2 linked regions of the Homo sapiens genome follow. The protein of the gene in region 2 interacts with the protein of the main gene of each other region in a biochemical or structural test. Each region holds a gene or a part of one and is shown on either strand. Other genes may lie near its edges.

The links. The genes of interacting proteins can lie anywhere in the genome.
Region 1: the proteins of UBE2N (region 2) and RNF111 form a complex in vitro, tested with the Homo sapiens proteins (4 studies listed by BioGRID).

Annotation. Positions count from the first base shown.
Region 1 is NC_000015.10:58,990,649-58,997,675, forward strand, and holds part of RNF111 (E3 ubiquitin-protein ligase Arkadia), read left to right. Parts: intron 1-267; exon of another isoform or gene 268-300; intron 301-7,027. UniProt on the Homo sapiens protein: E3 ubiquitin-protein ligase. Required for mesoderm patterning during embryonic development. Acts as an enhancer of the transcriptional responses of the SMAD2/SMAD3 effectors, which are activated downstream of BMP.
Region 2 is NC_000012.12:93,431,927-93,438,953, forward strand, and holds part of UBE2N (ubiquitin-conjugating enzyme E2 N), read right to left. Parts: intron 1-7,027. UniProt on the Homo sapiens protein: The UBE2V1-UBE2N and UBE2V2-UBE2N heterodimers catalyze the synthesis of non-canonical 'Lys-63'-linked polyubiquitin chains. This type of polyubiquitination does not lead to protein degradation by the proteasome.

The DNA of each region.
Region 1 (7,027 bases), on a different chromosome or scaffold from region 2:
TTCTCAAAACAAACAAACAAAAAAACTATGATTGTTGTTCCACATATTATTGCTATTGTTGTCCCATTGTAGATATTAATTACTGAAGCTTTAATAGCTTTCAGATGGTACTAAAAATGAAATTTTTTATTACTCCTGGTAACATTTTAAAAATCATCTGGAATAATTTGTTTTTCTTTCAGAAACCTGTAATTATTGTTCAGTAAAAGTCCACAATTACATTTGAATGTCTTATACCTCTGTTTGTTTCTTTCCTACATCCTACAGATTCTTGGTAACAGCTGGCCCAGGTTTCTACAGGTACTCAATTTATATCATTACATGAGGAGTGAATTACAAATATTTAAAGACAAATACTTAGCTGAGGCTGGGTGCGCTTGCTCATACCTGTAATCCCAGCACTTTGGGAAGCCGAGGCGGGTAGATCATGAGGTCGGGTTCGAGAGCAGCCAGGCCAACATGGTGAAACCCCGTCTGTACTAAAAAAAAAATACAAAAATTAGCTGGGCATGGTGGTGGCATGCGCCTGTAATCCTGGCTGCTCAAGAGGGTAAGGCAGAATTGCTTGAACCCGGGAGGTGGAGGTTCCACTGAGCTGAGATCTGCACTCCAGCCTGGGTGACAGAGCAAGACTCCATCTTGAAAAAAAACAAAACAACAAAAAAGCCTCCAAATACTTAGCTGAGCTTACATTTTAAAGAGCGGTACTGCATTATTACGTAGATACATTTATTGAATGTCTCATGTTCTAGGCACAGTCACTGGTCTTCAGTGAAGGCACTCTGCCTTCATGGAGCTGACATTCTGTTCTGTGTGTGGGAACATAATAAACAGAATGGTTTCAGGTAGTGGTAAGTGCCATGAGGAAAATAGGACCATGTGATACGGCATGGATGGAAGTGGTTTTACTGTAGATTGAGTGGTTAGGGAGGGCCTTTTTAGAGGTGGTAATTTGACCTGTGACTTCAATGACTAGAAAAAATCAGCCATAGTGACGATTTGGAGGAAGACTGCTACAGATAGCAGGGGCGGCAAATGCATTAGGTGAGGTTTGATTCTAGAGAATCTACAAATGTAAATTAATTATTTGGTTTGTCTGTTAAGCTTTTCATATTTGCTGTCAGATGATGTAGACAGATTAAAATTATTTTATGTGTAGTAACCAAATACAATATGTTGGTGTTGTTTAAACCCTGACTCAAACCAATTGTAGAAAGTCATTTTTGAAACATTGGGGGAAATCTGAATATGGATGGGTATTAGATGATATCAAGGAGTTATTGTAACTTTGTTAGGGATGATAATGGCATTATGTTTATGTAAGAAAATGACCACTTTTTATTAGTGATAGAGACTGAGGAATGAGGGAGAAAACTTGCAAATGTCTGGTATTTTATTTTATTTTATTTTATTTTGAGATGGAGTTTCCCTCGTTGCCCAAGCTGGAGTGCAGTGGTGTGATCTCAGCTCACTGAAGCCTCCACCTCCCGGGTTCAAGCAATTCTTCTGCGTCAGTCTCCTGAGTAGCTGGGATTACAGGAGCGCGCCACCACGCCTGCTAACTTTTTGTATTTTTAGTAGAAACGGTTTTTCACCATGTTAGCCAGGCTGGTCTTGAACTCGTGATCTCAGGTGATTCGCCCGTCTCGGCCTCCCAAAGTGCTGGGATTACAGACGTGGGCCACCGTGCCCAGCAATGTCTGTTATTTTAAACAGATACCAGATAAAAACCAAAAAATGTGGTGGAGGGAGATAAGATAGATGAAGCAGGTCTGGCACAATCTGGATAATTGTTGGGTTGGGGTGATGGGTACATGGGTATTAATAATATTGTTCTCTGCTTTTGTGAGGTTTGAAAATTGTTCATATTTTAAAATATATTTTTTTGGCTGGGCCCAGTGGCTCATGCCTGTAATCATAGCACCTTGGGAGGCTGAGGAAGGTGGATTGCTTGAGCCCAGGAGTTTGAGACTAGGCTGGGCAATGTGACGAAATTCTGGCTGTACCAAAAAAATACAAAAATTAGACAGGCATAATGGCACATGCCTGTAGTCCCAGCTACTCGGGAGGCTGAGGTGAGAGGATGGCTTGAGCCCGGGAGGCAGAGGTTGCAATGAGCCGAGATTGTGCCACTGCATTCCAGCCTCGGTGACAAAGCCAGACCCTATCTCAAAATAAATAAGTAAATGAAATAAAATAAAATAATATATTTTTGAAAACGTTCATTCATGTTTAGGCTGGACATGGTGGTGCACACCTGTAGTAATCCTAGCACTTTGGGAGGCTGAGGCAGGCGGATCACCTGAGGTCAGGAGTTTGAGACCAGCCTGCCCAACGTGGCAAAACCCTGTCTCTACTAAAAAATACAAAAAGTAGCCGGGCATGGTGGCGGGTGCTTGTAATCCCAGCTACTTGGGAGGTTGAGGCAGGAGAATGACTTGAACCCAGGAGGCAGAGGTTGCAGTGAGCCAAGATTGCGCCACTGCCCTTCAGTCTGGGTGACAGAGCAAGATTCCATCTCAAAAAAAAGAAAATGTTCAATTGTAAATAAAAATGTTTTAAAATAATTAGTAAAAGTGGCCAGGTATAGTGGCTCACACCTGTAATCCCAGAACTTTGGGAGGCCAAGGCGAGTGGATCACCTGACATCAGGAGTTCGAGACCAGCCTGGCCAACATGGTGAAACCTTGTCTCTACTAAAAACACAAAAATAAAAAAAATATAACTGTAAATACAAAAATTAGCTGGGCGTGGTGGTGGGTGCCTGTAATCCCAGCTGCTTGGGAGGCTGAGACAGGAGAATTGCTTGAACCCAGGAGGTGGAGGTTGCAGTGAGCTGAGATTGCACCACTGCACTCCAACCTGAGTAACAGAGTGAGACTCCATCTCAAAATTTGTGAAAGTACCATATTTAAGTGTCTGTTCCCTTCCACGCTTCTTTTCATTTTGATAAAAATACAGTATTTCGTTTCTATTTGTAAATGTTCAGTATTTATTCAACAAACAGGAGTGTTGTATTTCAGGCACTGTGCCAGTGCTTGAGTTAAAACAAAGGGCAGGCTCTTAACACCTGCCTGAAGGGGCTTATGGCTTGCTGGTGGAAAGGAGAGTTTGGCAGTGTGGATTGTGTTAACATGGAGAAGATTTTTGTGTTTTCCTGAGGGCATACACGATTAGCATCTTAGTTTAGTTTGTATGTGATTGGATTCTTAAAAAATATTTTTCCTTTTCTACCAAATAGAAAATTTAAGAAATTCTATATATGGCTAGGTGTCAAGTCTGAATCAATGTTGTAGTCATTTCCCTTATTCATATGTACTATAGGGCACTCGAATAAATTACTTATTTTACTATCTTTTGACATCCCAATTTGTTGTTACTTAAATTTTTTTTTTTTTTTTTTTTTTTTAATGGAGTCTCACTCTGTGGCCCAGGCTGGAGTGCAGTGGCCCCATCTTGGCTCATTGTCACCTCCACCTTCCAGCTTCAAGTGATTTTCCTGACTCACCCTCCCAGGTAGCTGGGATTAGAGGTGCACGCTACCACGCTCAGGTTATTTTTTATATTTTTGGTAGAGATGGGGTTTCGCTATGTTGGCCAGGCTGGTCTCGAACTCCTGACCTCAAGTAATCCTCCCGCCTTGGCCTCCCAAAGTGCTGGGATTACAGGCGTGAGCCACCACGCCTGGCTACTTACATTTTTATTTTGACATAATTTCAAACTTACCGAAAGATTTAAAAAATAGTACTGAGAACTCTTGAATACTCATTATTCAGATTCACCAATTTTTAATGTTGTCACTCTTGCTTTCTTATTTTCTCTCTCTTTTTTTTTTTTTTTTTTTTTTGAGGTGGAGTCTCGCTGTGTTGCCCAGGCTGGAGTGCAGCAGTGTGATCTCGGCTCACTGTAACCTCCATCTCCCAGGTTCAAGCGATTCTCCTACCTCAGCCTCCTGAGTAGCTGAGATTATAGGTGCCCGCCACCACGTCCAGCTAATTTTTGTATTTTAGTTAGAGACGAGGTTTCACCCTCTTGGCCAGGCTGGTCTCAAACCCATGACTTTAAGTGATCAGCCTACTTCAGCCTCCCAAAGTGCTGGGGTGAGCCTTTGCGCCTGGCCCCTTATTCTCTCTTGAATCATTTAAAAGTAAATTGCTTACATTATGCCCATTACATTGCATTATGCCCATTTGTTTCTAAATATTCACTGTGTATTGTATTCTTTTGCGTTATCACTGCACCAGTTACAAAATTCAGAAAATTAAACTTTGATAATATTAATCTACAGCTCATTTTCCAGTTTTGTCGAATTGTCCTGATAATAGCATTTATCCCTTTACAGCATTTTCCTCATAGGACCCAGTTCAGGATCACAAAATGCATTTAGTTGTCATATCTCTTTAGTCTCCTGTAATGTGGAACAGTGCACCTAATAAGCAATCTGTGGGGATAACTTTGAGATAGTGCAGCTACTCTGCTCCTCATCAGATCATCCTGTTCCTCATCACTCCCCACATCCCCCAAGGCCCATGTAGCATCCATTGATGTTTCTTGCCTATGCTGATCTTTACTGATCTTTACTCTAATGGTTGGAAAGTGTTTATTTTGTAACTCATCCATTTTCTTCACTAATGGACATTCTTTTATAAGGAAGAGACATTCTTTTATCTGATTAATACAGAATTGTGTGTTTCCTGTTTTATTCAGTGGGTTAAATAACCCATTATAACCTTTATTTTGATGTTCAAATTGTCCCAGATTTGTCCATTAGGAGCCTTTCCAAGTGGGCTCCTGTGTCTTTTTAACATAACCTCTTGTTTTTTTTTTTTGACGGAGTCTCACTCTTGTCTCCCAGGCTGGAGTGCAGTGGCGCGATCTTGGCTCACTGCAACCTCTGCCTCCCGGGTTCAAGCAATTCTCTGCCTCAGCCTCCCAAATAGCTGGGATTATAGGCGCCTGCCACCATGCCCGGCTAATTTTTGTATTTTTAGTAGAGACGGGGTTTCACCATCTTGGACAGGCTGGTCTTGAACTCCTGACCTTGTGACCTCGTGATCCACCTGCCTCAGCCTCCCAAAGTGCTGGGATTACAGGCATGAGATGCCGTGCCCCGGCCTTTTTTTTTTTTTTTTTTTTTTTTAAGTATTTCCTGTCTTTCTGGCACAGCAAGATGTTGCAAGCACATCTTATTTCTTTCCTTTGTCAGTCTTGGAATGAGCCGTTTTCCATGGAACCCTGGTTCCTTTTAGTGAGCAATCCAATTTGCTGTTGTGTTATTTATATACAGGAATAATCTTTTTTTCATGCATCAGGACATCGCTAGGAAACTAAATTTAAATTAGATTTTTGATAGTAGGTTTATATTTCTTTGAAGATTTTATGAAGTAATCACGTAAGACTCAGCAACTTATTGTCATAAAGCAATTTTTTTCTTCTTTTCTTTTTCAAATACATAATGAGTTATGTTCTTAATTGTGATCATATGAAATGAGAAAAAATTGTGTGTGTATGTTTAGCCACTTAACTGTTTATTAAAAACCTGAAGTTTATACTTTTAACTATTTTTAACTAAGTCATCAAACATTCTAATCTGAAGAAAACTGTTGCTTTTTAAGAAACTTTAAAATGAGTTCAAAAAATTGGGCTGGGTGCGGTAGCTCATACCTATAATCCCAGCACTTCGGGAGGCCGAGGCATATGGATCCCTTGAGGCCAGGAGTTCAAGATCATCCTGGCCAACCTGATGAAACCCTGTCTCAACTGAAAAATGCAAAAAAAAAAAAGTAGCCAAGTGGGGTGGTGCATGCCTGTAATCCCAGCTACTTGGGTGGCTGGAGCAGGAGAATCGCTTGAACCTGGGAGGTGGAGGTTGCAGTGAGCCGAGATCATGCCACTGTACTCCAGCCTGGGCAGTAGAGCAAGACTCCATCTCAAGAAAAAAAAAATTAAAAAATTATGAAACAGAATTTTTGTATGTGATTGAAAACTCATCAGTACTTTCTTTTTTTTTTTTTTTTTTTTTTTTTTTTTACCCAGGCAGTTACTGTTACATCTTGGTATATTTCATAGCCAGTTTCTCACCTGTGTATGGATATTTGCTTTATTTACTTATTCAATCTAACTTAATGTGTGTTTTTTCAAAGTAATATTTTGAATATTTTAAATTTTCAACCAATTAATATCTGTACACGGTTTTAAAAGTCAGTTTCAAAAGACTTACAATGAAAAACAGTGGTTTCCTATGCAACTCTCCTAATCTCCTAGTTGTACTGCTTAAACAGAAACATTTTAGCTCTCAAAAATTATTTCTGTAGTCTATACCTTTATATTTATAAGTAGTATGCTTATATTTGTTTGTATTTACTTGTGTACTTATATTTCTACTAATATGCTTAATTTTTACTTAGTTTTCATGTCAGTTTAAGTGTCTTTTTTTAAGTTAATTTTTTCAGAGAAAAGTAATATATACAAAGTGTACCAAATTTATAAGGTACAAAGAATGTACAGGGAAAAAAAACAAGGCTCCTTGCCATTCTTATCTTCCTATGACCCAAGTCTTTTCTCTGAAGATGTATCTCTTTCCTCCTGTATTTTATATGTGCATCCAGAGTAGTGGTTCTCAGAGTGTGGTCTGTTGACTCTTGAGGTAGCTCTTCCAAGTGTTCAGGAGGTCTACCAGGTTGAAACTATTTCAGAATATTACCAAGTTCTCATTTTCTATGTAACTGATGTGAACACCAGTTGACATTTGCACTGATGGTGCAAAAAACAGTGGTGCATTAAACTAATGGCCCTGTAGCACAAATCAAGACAGTGGCCAAACTGCATTAGTAATCACTATGTTCTTCATGACTACACATTTGCAGTTAAAAAAAAAAAAAAAATCAGGGCTGGGTATGGTGTCTCACGCCTGTAATCCCAGCACTTTGGGAGGCTGAGGTGGCCACATCACGAGGTCAAGAGATCGAGACCATCCTGGGCAACATGGGGAAACTCCATCTCTACTAAAAATACAAAATTAGCAGGG
Region 2 (7,027 bases):
TCTTCAAGTTTAAAAACACTTCCTCGGCTGGGCGCGGTGGCTCCTGCCTGTAATCCCAGCACTCTGGGAGGCTGAGGCGGGCGGATCACGAGGTCAGGAGTTTGAGACCAGCCTGACCAACATGGTGAAACCCTGTCTCTACTAAAAATACCAAAATTAGCCGGGTGTGGTGGCGTGCACCTGTAATCCCAGCTACTCAGGAGGCTGAGGCAGGAGAATTGCTTGAACCCGGGAGGCAGAGGTTGCAGTGAGCCAAGTCACGTCACTGCATTCCAGCCTGGGCCACAGAAATTTGTTTCATGACTGTGTTTTCCATTACACAGGGATGCCTTTCTTGTTCACCTGGCTTACTGGTAAATGCATATTATGCATTCAATGAATGTCCAATTAATTGAACTGAAAAAAAATCTCATGAATGGATAATAAAGAGACACGCAAATCACAAGGTTACAGAAAACTGAAATTTGGCCTTGGGATCGGCCTATGTTACTAAAACCACTTTGTCCCTGCCTCATAGTAAGATGGTAATCTAGTTGTCTTTAAGAGTCACAAAAAAAAAAAAACAAAACAAAACAGCTACTTACTAACATTTTCCCGAGTATAAGCTATAATCTTAAGAAAGTTACAGAGCAATAAAAAAATCACCAATGGTTTCATGATATAAATTTGTTAGTTCTTTCTAGTGTTTCCTTAACTACAATGCCTTCAATCCCTAGAACTGTAAAGACTTTCAAAATATAAATTCATTTGCCCAAAATTAACCAAACTGACAGAGACATAATGTGAAGGTATTGAAAACTAAAAAAAAAATTGAAAATCTAAAGACAACATAGCCAGTTGTTTTAATGCAAAATATGTCAACCTTAGATTCTGAAACCAGTATCTAAAATTACTTTAAATTACAGTAGAATCCTAATTATTCAGAAGCATCTCAGTTACTGGCCAATTCAAAACCAAAAATGTCTGTGCCTAAGTACTCAAGAAATTTTAGAATAGCTTCATTCAGGTTTTTTTTTTTTTTTGAGACGGAGTCTTGCTCTGTTGCCCAGGCTGGAGTGCAGTGGGGTGATCTCCGCTCACTGCAAGCTCTGCTGCTCCCGGGTTCACACCATTCTCCTGCCTCAGCCTCCCGACTAGCTGGGACTACAGGCACCCACCACCACGCCCAGCTAATTTTTTTGTATTTTTAGTAGAGACGGGGTTTCACCATGTTAGCCAGGATGGTCTCGATCTCCTGACCTTGTGATCCTCCTGCCTCGGCCTCCCAAAGTGCTGGGATTACAGGCGTGAGCCACCGCGCCTGGCCAGGATTTTTAAAAAATATAAAATGCCCCCAATGGTGTCATGTAGCCCTTGAAAGAATGAATAATAATGAAGTATTTCTGTTGATTCTGAGGGCTCTTAACCAATTATCCAGTTCTTCCAACCACACAGTCATGTTTCTGCCACAAAAGACCCTAGGGCCATCAATCACTTCACTTGGGAAGAAATTTTAAAAGCTGCTAAGATTTTAGCTGAAGTTAAAAGATTCCCTATTATTTAATTGCCTAATTGGTATATCCACATTCATTCCTTCATATATTACATTTGCAAAGAAAATTTCAACTCTAATGAAACAACAGTCCAACTCGTTTTTCGCATACACACATAAGAATTCTTTTCCTTGATATAATATTATTACATAAACTATGCCTCTCATATTTATTTTGTTTTTAGAAAGCAGCACTGTATAAGATACGAATTTGGCACCTAAATCAGAACTCTGATTACTATAATTGTAATGTCAAAAGCCCCTGCTGGATGCTGCTGTCCTCATTTCCTTGTTTCTAGTATTTATTTCTATAGCACATATGCATCCATAGTTCATTATAACAGAAAACATAATGTGTGTTCAGAATCCATACAACTTGAATCTGTAGCATATTTTCTTCTTAAATCCATTTACACAGGTAAACTATCCTATAAGGTATAGGGAAAAAAGAAGAAGAACCGAATTGTACATCAGGAATCTGGTCATCCAACTTCTTTGGCCTACAAATTCCTCACCAGAGAAAGAAAAGGATAGAACAGATGTTCTCTAATGTGTAAAACTCTGGTGGCTCACTCCCGTAGTCCCAGCACTTTAGGAGGCCGAGGTGGGTGGATCACGAGGTCAGGAGATTGAAACCATCCTGGCCAACATGGTGAAACCCGTCTCTACTAAAAATAAAAAAAAATTAGCTGGGTGTGGTGGCGCGTGCCTGTAATTCCAGCTACTCGGGAGGCTGAGGCAGGAGAATCGCTTGAACCTGGGAGGTGGAGATTGCAGTTAGCCGAGTTCGTGCCACTGCACTCCAGCCTGGCGACAGAGCGAGACTCCGTCTCAACAAAAAAAAACTCTGGTTTTAAGAGTGGTCATTAACACGTGTGGAAAAAATTCCAAACTTGAGCAAAGCAAATGCATAACATTTCCAGTCACAGTCATTTAGCACAGTGAATACTAAAGTACTTGATAATTTGACAAAACTTAATTTCACTTGTGCAGGAGTTGATCAATCTGGACTAAAGGAACTGCTTGACACAGAGGAGCTTAAAAAAGAATACTGAACTGACTGCTATTTTTAACTTACTTTCAGTTATGCTCACATTTCATAATCAAAACATTAGATAGTATATTAAAACAGTATCTTTAGAGCCTGAAAGTTTAATCACTATCAAAAGCAGTTCAAGGATTCTTAACATGGAGCACATGGAGACCTAGGGAATCCACAAATAAACTTGGCAAGAATCTGAATCCCCAGAAGTCATACGTTAAAAAAAATAGCTTTTTTTCCTAGGAAGAGGTCAGAAAATTCTTAAGTGAGACAACTGAAAGAACTAAAGAACCACTGTTCCTAGTCAAATTTTTTACAAGTTTTTTCTTAAATTCCAAAGGTGATTTTAATTACAACTTATAACAAATCTGTCTTCATCATAATGAGTTTGTATTTATTTATTTATTTATTTATTTATTTAAGAGACAGGGTCTTGCCTCTATTACCCAGGCTGGGGTGCAGTGGTGCCACTAATAGCTCACTGCAGCCCCGGCCTCCTGGATTCAAGGGATCTTCCTGCCTCAGTCTTCTGTTAGGATTACTGCATGAACCACCATACCTGGCTAAGTTTCCCTGCCCCCACCTGGAGGTACATATATTTCTGAAACATCATGGTAACTTTTCCATGCCTTTTTTTAATTGGAAGAAAACATTATCAGACAAGTATTTTCAGAGCTTAAAACAACAGATAGGACAGGCGCGGTGACTCACACCTGTAGTTCCAGCACTTTGGGAGGCCGAGGTGGGCAGATCACCAAAGGTCAGGAGTTCGAGACCAGCCTGACCAACATGGTGAAACCCTGCCTCTACTAAAAATACAAAAATCAGCTGGGCGTGGTGGCATACACCTGTAATCCCAGCTACTAGGGAGGCTGAGGCAGGAGAATTGCTTGAACCCAGGGGGCAGAGGTTGCAGTTAGCCGAGATCACGCCATTGCACTCCAGCCTGGGCAACAAAAGCAAAACTTCATCTCAAAATAAGAAAAAAAAAATGTTCAAGGCAGAGAGTAAAGCTACTCCAGTGGCTGAGGCAGGAGAACTGCTTGAACCTGGGAGGCAGAGGTTGTAGTAAGCCGAGATTGTGCCATTGCACTCCAGGCTGGGCAACAAAGCAAGACTCCCGTCTCAAATAAATAAAAGGTGAGTTTTCTAAATCACTTTTCTTACAAAAAAAAATACCTTATGCACTAGAATACCTATCAAATGAGTGGCTTTTAAACAGTAACAGGAAAAAATGTGTGTACTTCAAAAAATCCTATTAAAAAAGTAAACTCAAGTCTCAATGTAAAATCAGACTGTATCTGATTTTTAAGAATTTGAGGCTAAATCACACCAAATAGAAGAGTAAATTTTTCCACTGCACTTCAGCCTGGGTGACAGAGACCCTGTTTCAAAAAATTAATTAAATGTATTTTCTTAAGTAAATTTTTAAGCACCATAGACAAGGGACCAGTGGGGAAGGGAGACATAAAGTAAATTCTGCGAAAGACTGGTAAAATTCTAATTCCAGCAGGTTGACTCACTAGGTTTTAATCAAATAAGTCAACCCCTAGGGTAAGTTAACTACTTTTTCCCAAGACTGTATTTTATCATTTTCATTATTATCATTATTACTATTTTGAGACAGGGTTTCACTCTGTCGCCCAGGCTGGAGTGCAGTGGCGCGATCTAGGCTCACTGCAGCCTCAACTTCCTGGGCCAAACCAATCCTCCCACCTGTCTCCTGAGTAGCTGGGACTACAGATGTGTGCCACAACACCTGGCTAATTTTCATTTTATCTTTTTGTAGAGACAAGGTCTCATTATGTTGTACAGCCCAGTCTTGAAACCTTGGGCTCAGGGGATCCTCCCGCCTCAGCCTCCCAAAGTACTGAGATTATAGGCATGAGCCACAGTGCTCAGCCCTCATGATTAATTCTGAAAAGACCATTAAAGGAATGTCAGTCACTGTATCAACGTAACATGTAAAGCTGAAACAGATTTGGTTTTGACCAAGGCCATAACTATAGATCTCACTTATCGGTTCCCGAAAGTGATTCTCCTTTATGACAGGATTATGCAGAACCTCTCATTTGAGGGACATTTTAGGTACCTCCTAACCTTTATGACTTTAAGCTTTAACTGCTCACTTTTTTTTTTTTGGTGGAGATGGAGATCTCACTATGTTCCTCAGGCTGGTCTCAACTCCTGGCTTCAAGCAATCCTTGGGCCTCAGTCTCCCAAAGAGCTGTTATTACAGGTGTGAACCACCATGCCCAGCTTCAGTCACTTTTATTGGCTAAAAGAGCTTTGGTCCAGAAGATAAGGCAGAAAAACGAAACTAAAGATTCTAGCTTAAAACAGAACTACTAAGACTCAATATCACTCACACTTGTGCAAAATGCCATACATACAAAACTTCGTTACAGCATTTTTTATATAGCACAATTTAGGAAACATTCTGAAAGTTATGAATAAGCAATTAGTTACAATAAAGTCTAGGCCAGGCACGGTGGTTCATGCCTGTTAACCCTAGCACTTTGGGAGGCCGAGGTGGAAGAATCACTTGAGCCTAGGAGCTCGAGAACAGCCTAGGCAACATGGCAAGACCCCATCTCTACTGAAAAAGTATTAAATTTCCAATATTTGAAAAAATAAAATAAAGTCTAACCATAAGGTTCCATTAAACAGCCCTTTGAGAAAAAAAAAAGAGCCAAAGCAGAACACTATGATGCATGTCTGTAATCCCAGATACTGGAGGCTGAAGGTAGAGATCACCTGATATTAGGAATTCGAGGCTGTATGTATATAGTGTACTATGATCACGCCTGTGAAAAGCCACTGCACTCCAGCCTGGGCAACAAAGCAGCAGTCTGTCTCTTAAAAAAAAAAAAAAGTCAACTTGAAGATACATAGGTGGTTAGAGGGGAAGAGAAGGGAATCAAGGTATTTGCATGAGAAGGAGAAGACGCCTAACTTATAGCAGAAAGTTGCTCTGGTCTTCTTGTAAGGATACACAATAAAAATAGTGGTTGAAGTCGGGTGCAGTGGCTCACACCTGTAATCCTAGCACTTTGGGAGGCTGAGGCAGGTGGATCACTTGAGAAGAGGAGTTTGAGACCAGCATGGCCAACATGGTGAAACCCCATCTCTACTAAAAATTAGCCAGGTGTGGTGGCACATGCCTGCAGTCTCAGCTACTTAAGAGACTGAGGCAGGAGAATCACTTGAACCTGGGAGGTGGAGTTTGCAGTGAGCCAAAATTGCACCACTGCACTCCAGCCTGGGCAACAGGGGGAGACTCCGTCTCAACAAACAAACAAACAAACAAAAACAGTGGTTTTCTAAGCAGGGGAACTGGAATGCTGAAGGACAGATGAGGGATTCTCTACGTATCCTTCAGAGCCTTTCAAATGTGCTCTATGTGTGCATTTCCTAGTTAATAAAAAAAGATACATAAGCAGAGTAGGCACACAAAAAAGAAATAATGTAAAAGATTGATGTCCTTTTTAAGTGAGCTTATGGGTGGAAAACGAGACTAGCTTTAACTTTTAGCTCAGACATTGGTTCAGACAGAATATACCAAGGAGTAACAATGTCAAATTATTGCTCATTGAGATTAAGGCTCATCTATTCAGTTAGTCTATTAATATTTCAGTATCTACTATGTGCCAAGGATTGGTCTAGGCACGAATGAGCAATGCCCGGGATATCCAAGAGTCCCTAACTTCATGAAGGTTTAATGGGGAATAGAGAGAAATAAACAGTAAATAACATAACTTCGAACAGTAATAAGCACTTATACAGAAGAAAGGGAGATAGGAGGATAAAATTGTGGGGGAGGAAAAAGGGAAACTGGTTTATACGGGACAGGTTAGGTAGAGGGTATGACATATGAGCTAAGAACGGAACAACTGGACAAAGCAAGCAATGCAACAAACTGGAGGAAAGTCCTGTGACTGGAATAAGCTCAACCACTTATTGTTCAGGGTACAGCAAAGCAACAGTGTGGCTACAGTGGAGTGACCCAGAGAGAGAAGTGCAGATGCGCTCAGAAGTAGGCATCCCAAATGAATGCAGGGCCTTATAGCTAAGGGGTGGGGGGGAAGGCAAGATTCTAATGTAAGTGTGATGGAGAACCTCTACAGTTTTTAGCAGGGGAGTAACATGGTCTATATTTTAAGAAGATAACACTAGCTGCTGCTCCAAAGTAGGCTAATACAGGAGGCCAGGCAGTAAATGATGGAAGTGAACAGAGGTTTGAAAGACAGGGGGGAAAGTGTCTGATTTAGTACATATATTGAAAGCAGAACCTACAGAATTTGCTACTGGATTAGATACAGGAATCTAAATGAGATAGCAACTGGGTGAATAGTAGTCCAGAAAATCATCTTGTATTTGTAGTTAGTCATTTTACAGTAACAAGAGACAGGGGAATGTTACACTAATCAAGATCCAAATTCTGCCTCTTACCA